Linked DNA regions of Homo sapiens. The protein of the gene in region 2 interacts with the protein of the main gene of each other region in a biochemical or structural test. Each region holds a gene or a part of one and is shown on either strand. Other genes may lie near its edges.

Region 1 (3,827 bases), on a different chromosome or scaffold from region 2:
TATGTTGCCCAAACTCCAGGACTCAAGCAGTCCTCCCACCTTTGCCTCCCAAAGTGCTGGGATTACAGGGGTAAGCCACCACGCCCGGCCTCCCCATCCTGTTCCATCCTGACCCAACCATGCAGCCCCACATCTGCTCCACAGGTGGGGATCTTCATCCTACTTCACAAAGAGGGAGACTAAGGCCGGTGGTGGCATGTCCTTGCCTAAGGTCACACAGCAAGAGAAAGTAAGGGTCTGGCTGGCTCTCTGGACCGGAGGTGGGTGGCCCTCTTGCCACGCCCTTTCCCTGCCCCACCCTCTTGTCTATGGGTTCCTGGCCCCGCCCCTTCTTGGAACCCCTTGGGCTCCACCCCCCAGGTTCCCTGGGGCCCCTTAAGCCGGTAGCCCACCCTCTGCCCTCCGACGAGCATCCACCGCACTGGGTGGGCTGGCTCAGCCACCACACCCCAGCCAAGCACGGGAGGAGGATAAGGTGAGCAGGGGCTGGGTCCCAGGGTGCCGGGACCATCCTAAGGCCACACCCCAGGGAACACGAGGGCTGGGGCCTCTGCTCACTCAGCCCTCCACCAGCCAAGAGGCCCTGCAAAGGTCTGGCCCGCCCCACCCCCACTGCACAGAAGCCGCAGGGCTGCAGGGAGCCGTCAGGCCAGCCACACCCGCACAGCTGCCCTCACCGCCCCCTCATTCTGCTCAGAAGGGCCTGCATGTCTACCTACAGGCAGGGGCCGCACCCTGGGCCCTGGCCTGTGCCGGCCACAGAGCACCACCTGTCCAATGCGCTGGGGCTCCGCTGAAGCCCCGCTGATCGGAGGGAAGTTAGGGACCAGGTAAGAGGACAGCCTCCTGCAGGCCCACCCCAGCAGCAGAAAGGATGGAGGGAGAGGTTCTAGGTCCACCCCAGCAGCAGGAAAAAACAGAGGGCATCAGGGGCTCCAGGTTCCCCAGAAAGAGGGGCAAAAGGAGAAGGGGAGACAGTGGAACAGAAACCACATTAGCACAGCCTCGTCCTAGGGTTTACAGGGCTCGTCCTCACACAGCCTTGCAAATAAGCAGGGCGCTTACCAGCCCGCCTGGAACAAATGCAGGAAGCCGGGAGGCTCCTTCTCAATGAGACTTCCAATGGCTGCGCAGGGCTTAACTGGCGGCAGCCACGGGGCCACGTGTGAATGCACGTCGGCCTTAATCCTCCTGGCAACTCCATGAAATTTACACTAACCTCATCCCCCAAGCCAGAGAAGAAAGGGAGCTTCCCAGCCATTCCTGGGCCCAGGGCCACACAACTGCCGCCATCTGTACCACGACTCAGTCCCCATCAGCCTGTTGCGTTCAATCCTGGAACTGGTTTGATGCAAAGGTTTAGGCCAGCCAGTGAGGCACCCACCGCGGGGGGCCAGGCACCCTTGGATGAGTGCCTTCCCTGCAACCTTCCTCAGTTTCCCCACCTGTCAAAAGGGCCCAGCCTCTCCGCTCCGCCAGGATGTTGAAAGGATTTAGGGGCCTGGTGCCACGTAGACATCAGGCCACACCCCAGCAGGGAGGGATAGGGGAAAGGGGTGTCGTCCCCCCAGTAGAGCAGGGCCCCTCCTGGCTCCAAGGCCCTCGCTTGGCCTTGGAGTCTCTAATTAGAGCTGTGTTACTATGGGAACAGTGTTTTCTTCAGGATTTTTCTTTTCATCAACAGAGGCACAGAAATCCTGAGTCACAGGCCCACAGAAGCCCCCGGGAGCCAGGAGATTAAGAGTCTCCTGTGCCGGGCCCACGGGTACCTCTCCCTCCTCCTTCCAGAGAGGTCTAGCCCTGCCTGTCCTCCCCTCACAGTGGCCTTCCCTGTTTCCAGCCTTTGAGCCATCCTCTCTTTTTTTTTTTTTTAACTTTTTTCTTTTAATTATTTTAATTACAGTTTTTTGTTTGTTTGTTTTGGTTGTTTTTTTTGTTTTGTTTTGTTTTTTGAGATGGAGTTTCACTCTTGTTGCCCAGGCTGGAGTGCAATGGTGCGATCTCGGCTCACTGCAACTTCCGCCTCCCGGGTTCAAGGGATTCTCCTGCCTCAGCCTCCAGAGTAGCTGGGATTACAGGCATGCGCCACCACGCCCGGCTAATTTTTGTGTTTTTAGTAGAGATGGGGTTTCTCCATGTTGGTCAGACTGGTCTCAAACTCCCGACCTCCAGGTGATCCACCCACCTTGGACTCCCAAAGTGCTGGCATTACAGGCGTGAGCCACCGCACCAGGCCAAAAAAAATTTTTTTAAGACAGGGTCTCGTTCTGTTGCCCAGGCTGGAGTGCAGTGGCACGATCTCGGCTCACTGCAGCCTCAAACTCCCCGGCTCAAGTGATCCTCCCATCTAAGCCTCCTGAGTAGCTGGGACGACAGGCGTGCATCACCATGCCTGGCTAATTTTTTGTATTTTTTGTAGACAGAGGTTTTGCCATGTTTTCCAGGCTGGCCTTGAACTCCTGGGCTGAAGCCATCTTCCCTCCTTGGCCGAAGCCATCTTCCCTCCTTGGCCTCCCAAAGTGCTTGGATTACAGGCGAGAGCCAGTGTGCCTGGCCTTCTGAACCATTCTGTCTGTGGTGGCTCAGAGGGGCACCCCCTGGTTGCCTCACACCCTCCAGTCCCCATCACCACCCCCAGGCCTTAACGGTCCCCAGATGCCCCTGGCTTGTTCAAAACAGGCACTCCTTCCATCTCATTTAGGGGAGGGGGCCTGGAATGTTCTATGGCTTCACCTTACCACCCCGGTTTCCAGTCGATTCCTGCAACTACTTGGCCATTTCAAATGCCTCTGCATCCTTATACAAGCCATTCCCTGGGCTCAGAATGCCCTGCGCCTCGTGGGGAGAACTCTTACACATCCTGCAAAGCCCAGCTTGACGAGCCCTTCCTCAGTCAGCCCTCCTCAGAGTGGCTGGGAGAGGGCATGTCCCAAGCCAGCAGGGAGGACAGGTCCTATCCCTGGCATGGATCCCCAGATGCAAGCACAGGCTGGCGGGAGAGGACTCCCAGATGTGAGAGATGTGAGAGAAGACAGGAAGTGTGGTGAGGCATGGCCCAGGGTCGGGGCCAGGGTAGGTGTGGATCCTGGGGAGCAGGGAGGAGCCTGGGGCATGGCGGGAGGACAAAGGAGCACTCACTCAGCTGACCCAGCCTCTGGTGTGAAGGGCTGAAAGCCCCTGCCCAGGGCAGCTCTGGGCCAGCCCAAGGAGGCCTGGAATGCACACTTTACAGATGGGGAAACTGAGGCTGAAGAGCAGGGCGCAGCGTTTTTCAAAGGGGAGCACCCTGCCCCCACCGGGCCCGCCCGTGCAGGCCTGCAGAGATGATTCACATCCCCCCTGCCAGCTAAGTCCGGATCCTCCCCTTCCTGGCTGGCGTTCCCCAGCATGTGTGTCGGAAGCAGACGCCTCCCCCTTGCCACGCAGGCCCGTCCAAAATGGCCTCTGCAGACACGCCCCCCACGCCCACCCCTGCAGACTCCAGTTCCCAAAAGCCCCCCGGGAGTTGGCTGACATAGAAACGAGATAAGGACCCCAAGATCTGAGGCCAGAGGAGCCCCAACCTCGGCCCCCAAGTACCCCCACCCCCGCGCCGTCCCACATCCCTTTCAACTCCAAGCTGAGCCATCACCACCACCTCTCCTGGCTGCAATTTCTGGTTCCTCCCACCCTATCAGCCTGAATCACACACCAGACGCCCCCAGCAAGCTTCTCAGGAGAGGGGAGTTATCTGCCCAGGCTCGCCAAAAACACCCTCAGGCTCTCTGCAACTTCCTGGCCCCCAGGGCCAAGGCCACCTACTTCTGCGACTTCTTCCCCACGGGAGG
Region 2 (3,600 bases):
AGGCAAGTGAGGGACAGTGTGCCCGTGCAGGCTGCTGGGGGTGTGAGGTCAGAGCTTCAGCTGCTGACCTTCTGCAAAGTTCATCCTGGGGTTACAGCAACTCCTGGAATCCCAAGGATATACCACATGGGGAAGGTGGCCAGAGGCCCAGCGGAGGGCCTACCAACAGGGATGTCATGAATGGTTGGACAGGTTGTAGCTTGCACAGGGCTCCCAGCCAACGGGGCAAGTAGAGCTGAAACCTATCCCAAACTCCATTTGCTAAGCTTTGCACCTGCTGGGTTGTATCTACCCAGAGGAGGGCCTTTTTCTAACAAAGGCCAGCAGGGCCTTACTCCAGGTCCTTAATTCCACATATTAAATAATAAATGGAAGATGTCCATGCCCAAGAGCAGAAAGGAGAGGGCCAGGGTCTTGGGTTTGAATCCTGACTCTACACTGGGGGTCTTGCTTGCCCATCTTCCCTCTGAGTCTTCATTTCTCTACAGAGATGGCAACAGCCTGGTGCCAGGGCAAAAGGCCAGCCATTTGGCAAAAGCCTCGCACCAAGATGGAGAGAAAGGGAGAACTGTTATCAATGATGGGACAGTGGCTGCTCTCACCACCCAGCAGCCCTGCCCTGCCACGGTTTGATTTCCAGCCACCAGTCCTCCCCCTCCCCCATGTGGCCACTGGGAACAGGGCTGGAACCAAGGGAAAGGGGAGTCAGGTTCCTGCCACTGAAGCATCTTTGCTCGTGGATGTAACAATTTAACACCAGATTCCCCAGGGGAAGGGGCTGGTGGAGGCTTGCTTTATATTTCTGTTCCTTTAAAAAAAACTTAATGTCTAATAAAACTCCAAAGCCTGCTTTGCTAGCTCCAGACCATGCAGCCCTCATTTGATGCTGAGAAGTATGGGCTTTGGGGTCGTGGGACCAGAGGGAAGCTTTACAAGCTTGTTTTGGGCATTCTGCTTCTTCTACATTGGCCAGATCATGGCCAAGACACTCCTTTCCCTCCAGCCTTTTAAAATATCCTGCGGCCTCATCAGGGTTTGGTGGGGAAGGAAACAGAGGAGTCAGGGGGATAGACAGGTTGGATCAACCCAGGAGGGAGTCTGTGGTCCTCATGAGACCAGCAGGACAGGCACAGGCAACAGAGGAGGTGGAACCTTGGTGTTGCCGCACCTCCTCCAGGGCAGCAACACACTCAGTGCTGGGAACATCTGCAGACCAGGAGCCTCAGGGTCCCAGATGCAGGCTTTCCCTCAAGAGGCAAGATTCCAGAAGGGCCTGTTCTGATTTCTTTTCATCCTTTAGGGCTCTGCTTAAATGTCACTTCCTCAAGGAAGTGGTCCTGTTGCACCCACCGCTCACAGATTAGGTGGGGCTGCCATGTTACGCATCCAGCCTGTTCTCCGGTTCTCTCTGCTTTTGTCTGGCCTGAACTTTATAGACTCCCTCATTGGACTGTCAGCTCCCTGAGGGAGCTGGATTGCCCCAGGGCCTGATGCGGTATCTGGCATGCAGTAGGGACACAATGCATACACGCGTGGAGTTGAAATACATGAAAATACTGTATGACCTCAATTAACCAGAACTCTGGGAGAGCGACTGTTGGTTAGCCGAGATTCCAGACTGCCAGGCTTTGCTGCCCTCATCATTTTTGCTTTTCACCATGGTGGCTGCACCCTTCCCTGTCTCTGGAGCAAAGCTTCATGGCTTCCCATGACTCAGGGACTCTGTATTTACACCAGCGATTACTCTGGGCTGCAATACAGGGAAACTCTTTTGTTCTTTTCCCAAATTACCACACTTTTGTCTTTTTGAGTTCTCCTGTCAGCCTTTTTTTTTTTTTTAATATAGCTTTTCTGTTTCCTCCCTTCCTGTCAAGGTATCAGTTGTCACTTCTTGCTGCTACCAGAGTGTGACCTGAAGCAACCCTTCCCCCACCACGCTAATCTATTTAAGGTCTAATTGAATCTTCAGAAACTGTGGAACTCGCCTTGGTAGAAAGGCATGTGCCGGCCGGGCGTGGTGGCTTACGCCTGTAATCCCAGCACTTTGGGAGGCCGAGGCAGGCAGATCACGAGGTCAGGAGATCGAGACCATCCTGCCTAACATGGTGAAACCCCATCTCTACTAAAAATACAAAATATTAGCCAGGCGTGGTGGCGGGCGCCTGTAGTCTCAGCTACTCAGGAGGCTGAGGCAGGAGAATCGCTTGAACCCAGGAGGCAGAGGTTGCAGTGAGTCGAGATCGTGCCACTGCACTCCAGCCTGGGTGGCAGAGTGACAGTCCGTCTCAAAATAAATAAATAAATAAATAAAATAAAAATAATAAAAAATATAAAGGTATGTAAATAGGATCTGAACCAGGAGGAGGCAAGCCTCTGAATACAATCTGTGAGCTCTCACGCCACTCTGAATCCTGGCTCCACACTTGTCCTGGGTCATAATTAGGTAATGATGACAGTACCTGCATCATAGGATTGCTGTAAGTATTACACAAGTAAATAAGGTATTTATGTACTTTGGGACCCCTCTTTTCTGTCCTCCAGGGTCTACTTTGTGGCCATTGGCTGTGTTCCAGTTTGTTGGGCTCTGGACAGCTGAGGAGATCTGTCTACAGTGGTCTTGGGTGGTGTGGGGGCTTTGTGCAAATGCCCCTGCCAAGAAACCTGTTCTCCCTGCTGCAGCCTGAGGTCCTCTCTCTTCTCTTAAAAACTGCATTTGGAGTAGGGGCCAGATAATTAGTAACCATGCATTTCCTGTCCTTGTTTTATGTTCCCTATGTTGTAAAATCCTAGATCTGCTTCTTAATAGTATGTTGCTTAGGGTAAATTACTTAATTTCCCTAAACCTCAGTTTTTCTCACCTAAAACATTGGGTTGATAATGTCTATTGCCCAGGATTGCTGGGAGAATTAAGTGAAATAATTTATGCAAATATGTCTGGTCTACAGTAGGAATTTAATAAATGTTAGTTATCAAAGAAGCATCTCATCTTAAGGAGACCCCAGGCAGGAGGGGAGAGTTTAGCCAAGTAGGGAGGGGTGACTAACATTCAGGCTAATTGCTCCAAAATCAGATCCAAAAGGATTAATTTATAGGGATGACAGATAAATTTCCCTGAAATTTGTATGTGTTACACTTAGTCATTTCACATTTGACAGAATGATTTCATCTCATTTTTAAGAACGCTTGTAATCTTTTTGTTTTGGCCATTTCAAGGCTTACAAGGAACTAAGGTGGAAGGATCCTTAGATGAATTGACTTTTAAGAATTTTCATTTTTTTTAATTAGAGAAAAGAGAGAAACAGCGAAACAGTTGAAAGTATTTGAAACCATACGAATGTTTCAGTATAATCAGCCCTGGCCATTCCAACAGCTTCAGCAAAGAGCTCTTAAGTGAATGGGGCCGTGGTCACCGCCATGGGATGGGAGAGATTTTCAAACACCTGGAGGGCCTTTTGAGGTCGATGCAAACCCAGGGGAGGCACTGGCACATACCCCTCACTCCCTTTGGATAGGGGAGGAGTTGGGAGGAAAGGAGCTAATTACCCAAGATAATGTAGCATAGAGACTTGAGAGGGGGCAGGGCCTCTGCGTGTGGAGAAG
Region 3 (3,827 bases), on a different chromosome or scaffold from region 2:
ATGCCTCAAACTGCAATTCTTGCTTCCTCAATAAAATGTTGAATTTAGAGATTTGTCTCTACATTTTTATTTTGACTTCAACACACTATACTGAATGAAGCTGTACCTGTTTTTTATTTTAGCTTTATTCTATTAGTGATTATTAATGAACGGTAGAAGCTTATAAACTATTAAGTACAGGTAAAACCATCAGATTCTATAACCTATTTTAATAACTCTGAGATCTTATTAGTCATAACCTGATGAGGTACAAACTCCCGTTAAATTATGTGTATATTTTAAAAACTAAACTTAGCAAGAACTTTAAGGAGAATTAAATTTGTGAAAAACAAACTTTTATAATCTTATTACCATAATACTATTATTATTATTTCTCTATATATTTATTTTCCATCTTCATCCTTAAAACAATCCTCTGTCCTGGAGTTGTATTATTAATCTTTGTTTAATAAATATTGATATTTTAAAATTCAATTAATTTTTCCATTTTCTGAAAACTCTTCAAGTAGTGGACCCTCACAATATCTAGCAGTAGTATAACATTTAAATTGGCTTCAAAGTCCTTTTTTTATATTAAATTTTTATATTCTTTATATTAAAACTTGTGTATGATGTGGCCTCTTTGTTTCCACCTAATGCTTCATATGGCCAAAATATTAATCAAACAAAATAAGTTTTTGGCATTGGCATCAACTTAAAAATCTGGTTAAACAACACAAGCATATAAAGATTTGAAGAAAGCAAAACCATTAGTTACCTGAACCTTCCAATTCTTCTTAGATGTGAAAACATTTCACCCCCAGGGACATATTCCATAACCATGTATAAATTAGAATTATCCTATGAACAAATAAAAAGGAAATACAATTATTCAACTTAGGTCAAAATTATTTTAATATTATATAATGCTGAATTAGAAAAATTTAAAATCTCTCTGACAGATTAATAACCTTGAGAAATAAAGAATAAATGGAACATGCTCTAGCTTTTCTATACAGAGACACTCATATTTTTCCCCTCCTAGTTATTTTTGCCACAAACTAGTCTGGGACTTTTGCTCTTCCTTTTCTTGCAGAGAACATCTAGTTCTCAAACAATTAAATACTCAGGCAATGAAGTAACGTTATAATATATGCAAAAGAATAACAAAGGTAAAAAACAATTTAAAAAGTTAATAAGAATATTTACATTTTATGTATAAAAGATTAATGGTTTTAATATTTTAAATACATAGGTCTTCATTTAATTTAAAGAATAAAGGAGAAAAAAGATTAAAATGTTTCATATGATTCAATATTGCAGAGAGATGCCAGTATCATTCCAAAGAGCTCAAAAGTGACCAATTTAAATAATAAATGTGGTACAATTTTTCAGACATTTGAATAGTGGAACAAAAATTTTGCTTTGTATAAGTGAAAAGACTAGAACTCAAATTACTAAGTAAAAGAAGATGAGATAGTGGCAAAAAGGGCTTAATCAAAGTAGAAAATGTGTTGGGTGTATGAATTTGCATAAGAATTGTTATTAAGATATCCCTATGGTTTTTGATAAATTGAAATATTTCTTTTTGTAATACCATCTCATGAGTATCACCTTTGAACAATTTCCCCAGGGAGAATCAAAACCTTTTCAAACGTTACCTAAGTTATAAGCACAATAGGATTTAATTACACAAACTCTAGAGGTATTCGTTTTGTTTATTCATATTCTTCAGGCTTATCATCTGGTTTAGAATCCATTTATAGTTTCATCTTAAAAAAAATTTAGGTTGAAAATATCTTATTTAGATATTACTAAAATTTACCTTAAAAGCATACTCCAGTCGAACAAGGAAAGGAAAATTCACTGCCTGTAATATTCTTTTCTCATTCAAAGTATGCTCTATTTGCTTCAGTTTAACAACCTGTAATTGAGAGATAAATATCTCTTAATGTATTTAAGCAAAATTAAAAAGTTATCATTTAAAAAAATGTTTTCCATATAGTAATAAACTTGGATAAGCAAAATTGTTAGAATTGGATAAGGAAGATAATAACAATTACCAACTTTTAGGTTGGTGCATAAGTAATTGCGGTTTTTGCCATTACTTTTAATAATAGGATTCAAATGAAAACCTAATAGAGGATTTAAAACTTGGTCTTAGGAAGGTCAATTATGGTTTCAATTAAGAAGTGAGAGCTAAGTAGGAATAAGAAACAAACTCATAAGAAATTACTTTAAAAATTAGTTATGTCAATTATGCTTAAATAAATATATAATTACTTAAGGTAATTTAAAAATGAATGTGAAAATACTAAGGTCCTAATGACTTAAAGTCCTCTATAAAAGCTGGCTCAAATCTCTGCAATAAGTAGATAGTGATTTTAAATACTTCAGAAGATGAATAAGAAAATTAAAAATGAAGAGAAAGTCCATAACTGAAAAATAGTGAGTAAAAATGAACAATTTTCATTTTATAATATCTAAATAAATATAGGTATAAATTCTAAAAATTTATTTTATATTGCCATAGAAGAGGACACACAAAATATTGGGGAAAAAACTATCTTTATAACAAAAACTATCTTTGTATCCTAGGTCATTTAGACTTAAGCTTCCTCTAGATTTTCTATTTAATAGAAGGGGAAAGTAATTTATCTTGACTTCACGAAGACTGTGATTCTATTCCATATGTGATTCTATTTTGAATTTAAGAAGTGGTGACTTTAGCAAGACATATAAATAATTTTCTTGTATATGTGTAAATCATTAGAAGGTGGCATTCTTTCTTGCTGGAGTCTAATGGTCAATGTGAGGATAGTCACAGAAGTCAAGAAGTTAAATATAAATAACAAAAGTAATTAAAGATACCAGCCAGGTATTAATATATAAAATTAGGAGTATACTGATAATATTGAGCAAATAAATTGAGTAGGAGTCAGATTTGTGTTTTAATCTAGGCCTTTTATTTAACTAACTTTCTGACTTGAGATGATTTCAAATCTTTGGGCCTCAGGTTTTCAAAATTTGTAACATGAAGTGGTTGGATCACTACTGTACACATTTTAACTTCTGTAATAGTTACAAAACAAATTAGTCCATAATTGTCACAATAAATTATAGTTGTCCATCAGTATCCCTGGGGGTTGGTTCCAGGACCTACAGCAGAAACCAAAATGCCCAGGTGCTCAAGTCCCTTATATAAAATGACAGAGGCTTTGCATAAAGCCTATACACACTGTCCATATACTTTAAATCATCTCTAGATTACTTATAATACCTGATATATTGTAAATGCTATGTAAATAGTTGTTACACTGTATTGTTTAGGGAATAATAACAAGAAACAAAAGTCTGTACATGTTAGGTATAGATGTAATTTTTTTCCCAAATATCTTCAATCTGTGATTGGTTAAATCCATGGACGTGGAACCCATAGATATGGAAGGGCTGACTGTATACTAACTATGTATAATATAGTTACAATAAAAATTTAGTTACAATAAAAATTAAATTTAATAATAAAATTATTTGAAGCTGTCAATGGTAAGTCATTATACTGAATCTGTTTAATAGTCTAGCTGATAAAACTAAAGTTTACCCTGAAGGTAAATAACAACAAATACACTCACCTTCTGCTTATCTAAGATCTTCATGGCATAATACTGTTCAGTGGCTTTGTGTTTTACCAACATGACTCTTCCAAATGAACCTGTTCCAAGGGTTTTTTTCCTTTCAAAATCTTCAAGTCCGGCATTATTCTATATGTAAATACATAAATAAAATTTAAAATTCTCGTAAAAACACTATGGGAATTATAAATGCTTTAATAATACATAATCATAATG

Evidence for each region.
Region 1: the proteins of NGFR (region 2) and FSCN1 form a complex in vitro, tested with the Homo sapiens proteins (one study listed by BioGRID).
Region 3: of the proteins of NGFR (region 2) and PRKACB, one has a biochemical effect on the other in vitro, tested with the Homo sapiens proteins (one study listed by BioGRID).

Annotation. Positions count from the first base shown.
Region 1 is NC_000007.14:5,595,793-5,599,619, reverse strand, and holds part of FSCN1 (fascin), read right to left. Parts: intron 1-3,827. UniProt on the Homo sapiens protein: Actin-binding protein that contains 2 major actin binding sites. Organizes filamentous actin into parallel bundles. Plays a role in the organization of actin filament bundles and the formation of microspikes, membrane ruffles, and stress fibers.
Region 2 is NC_000017.11:49,498,293-49,501,892, reverse strand, and holds part of NGFR (tumor necrosis factor receptor superfamily member 16 precursor), read right to left. Parts: intron 1-3,600. UniProt on the Homo sapiens protein: Low affinity receptor which can bind to NGF, BDNF, NTF3, and NTF4. Forms a heterodimeric receptor with SORCS2 that binds the precursor forms of NGF, BDNF and NTF3 with high affinity, and has much lower affinity for mature NGF and BDNF.
Region 3 is NC_000001.11:84,182,113-84,185,939, reverse strand, and holds part of PRKACB (cAMP-dependent protein kinase catalytic subunit beta), read right to left. Parts: intron 3,741-3,827; coding exon 3,612-3,740; intron 1,904-3,611; coding exon 1,805-1,903; intron 841-1,804; coding exon 758-840; intron 1-757. UniProt on the Homo sapiens protein: Mediates cAMP-dependent signaling triggered by receptor binding to GPCRs.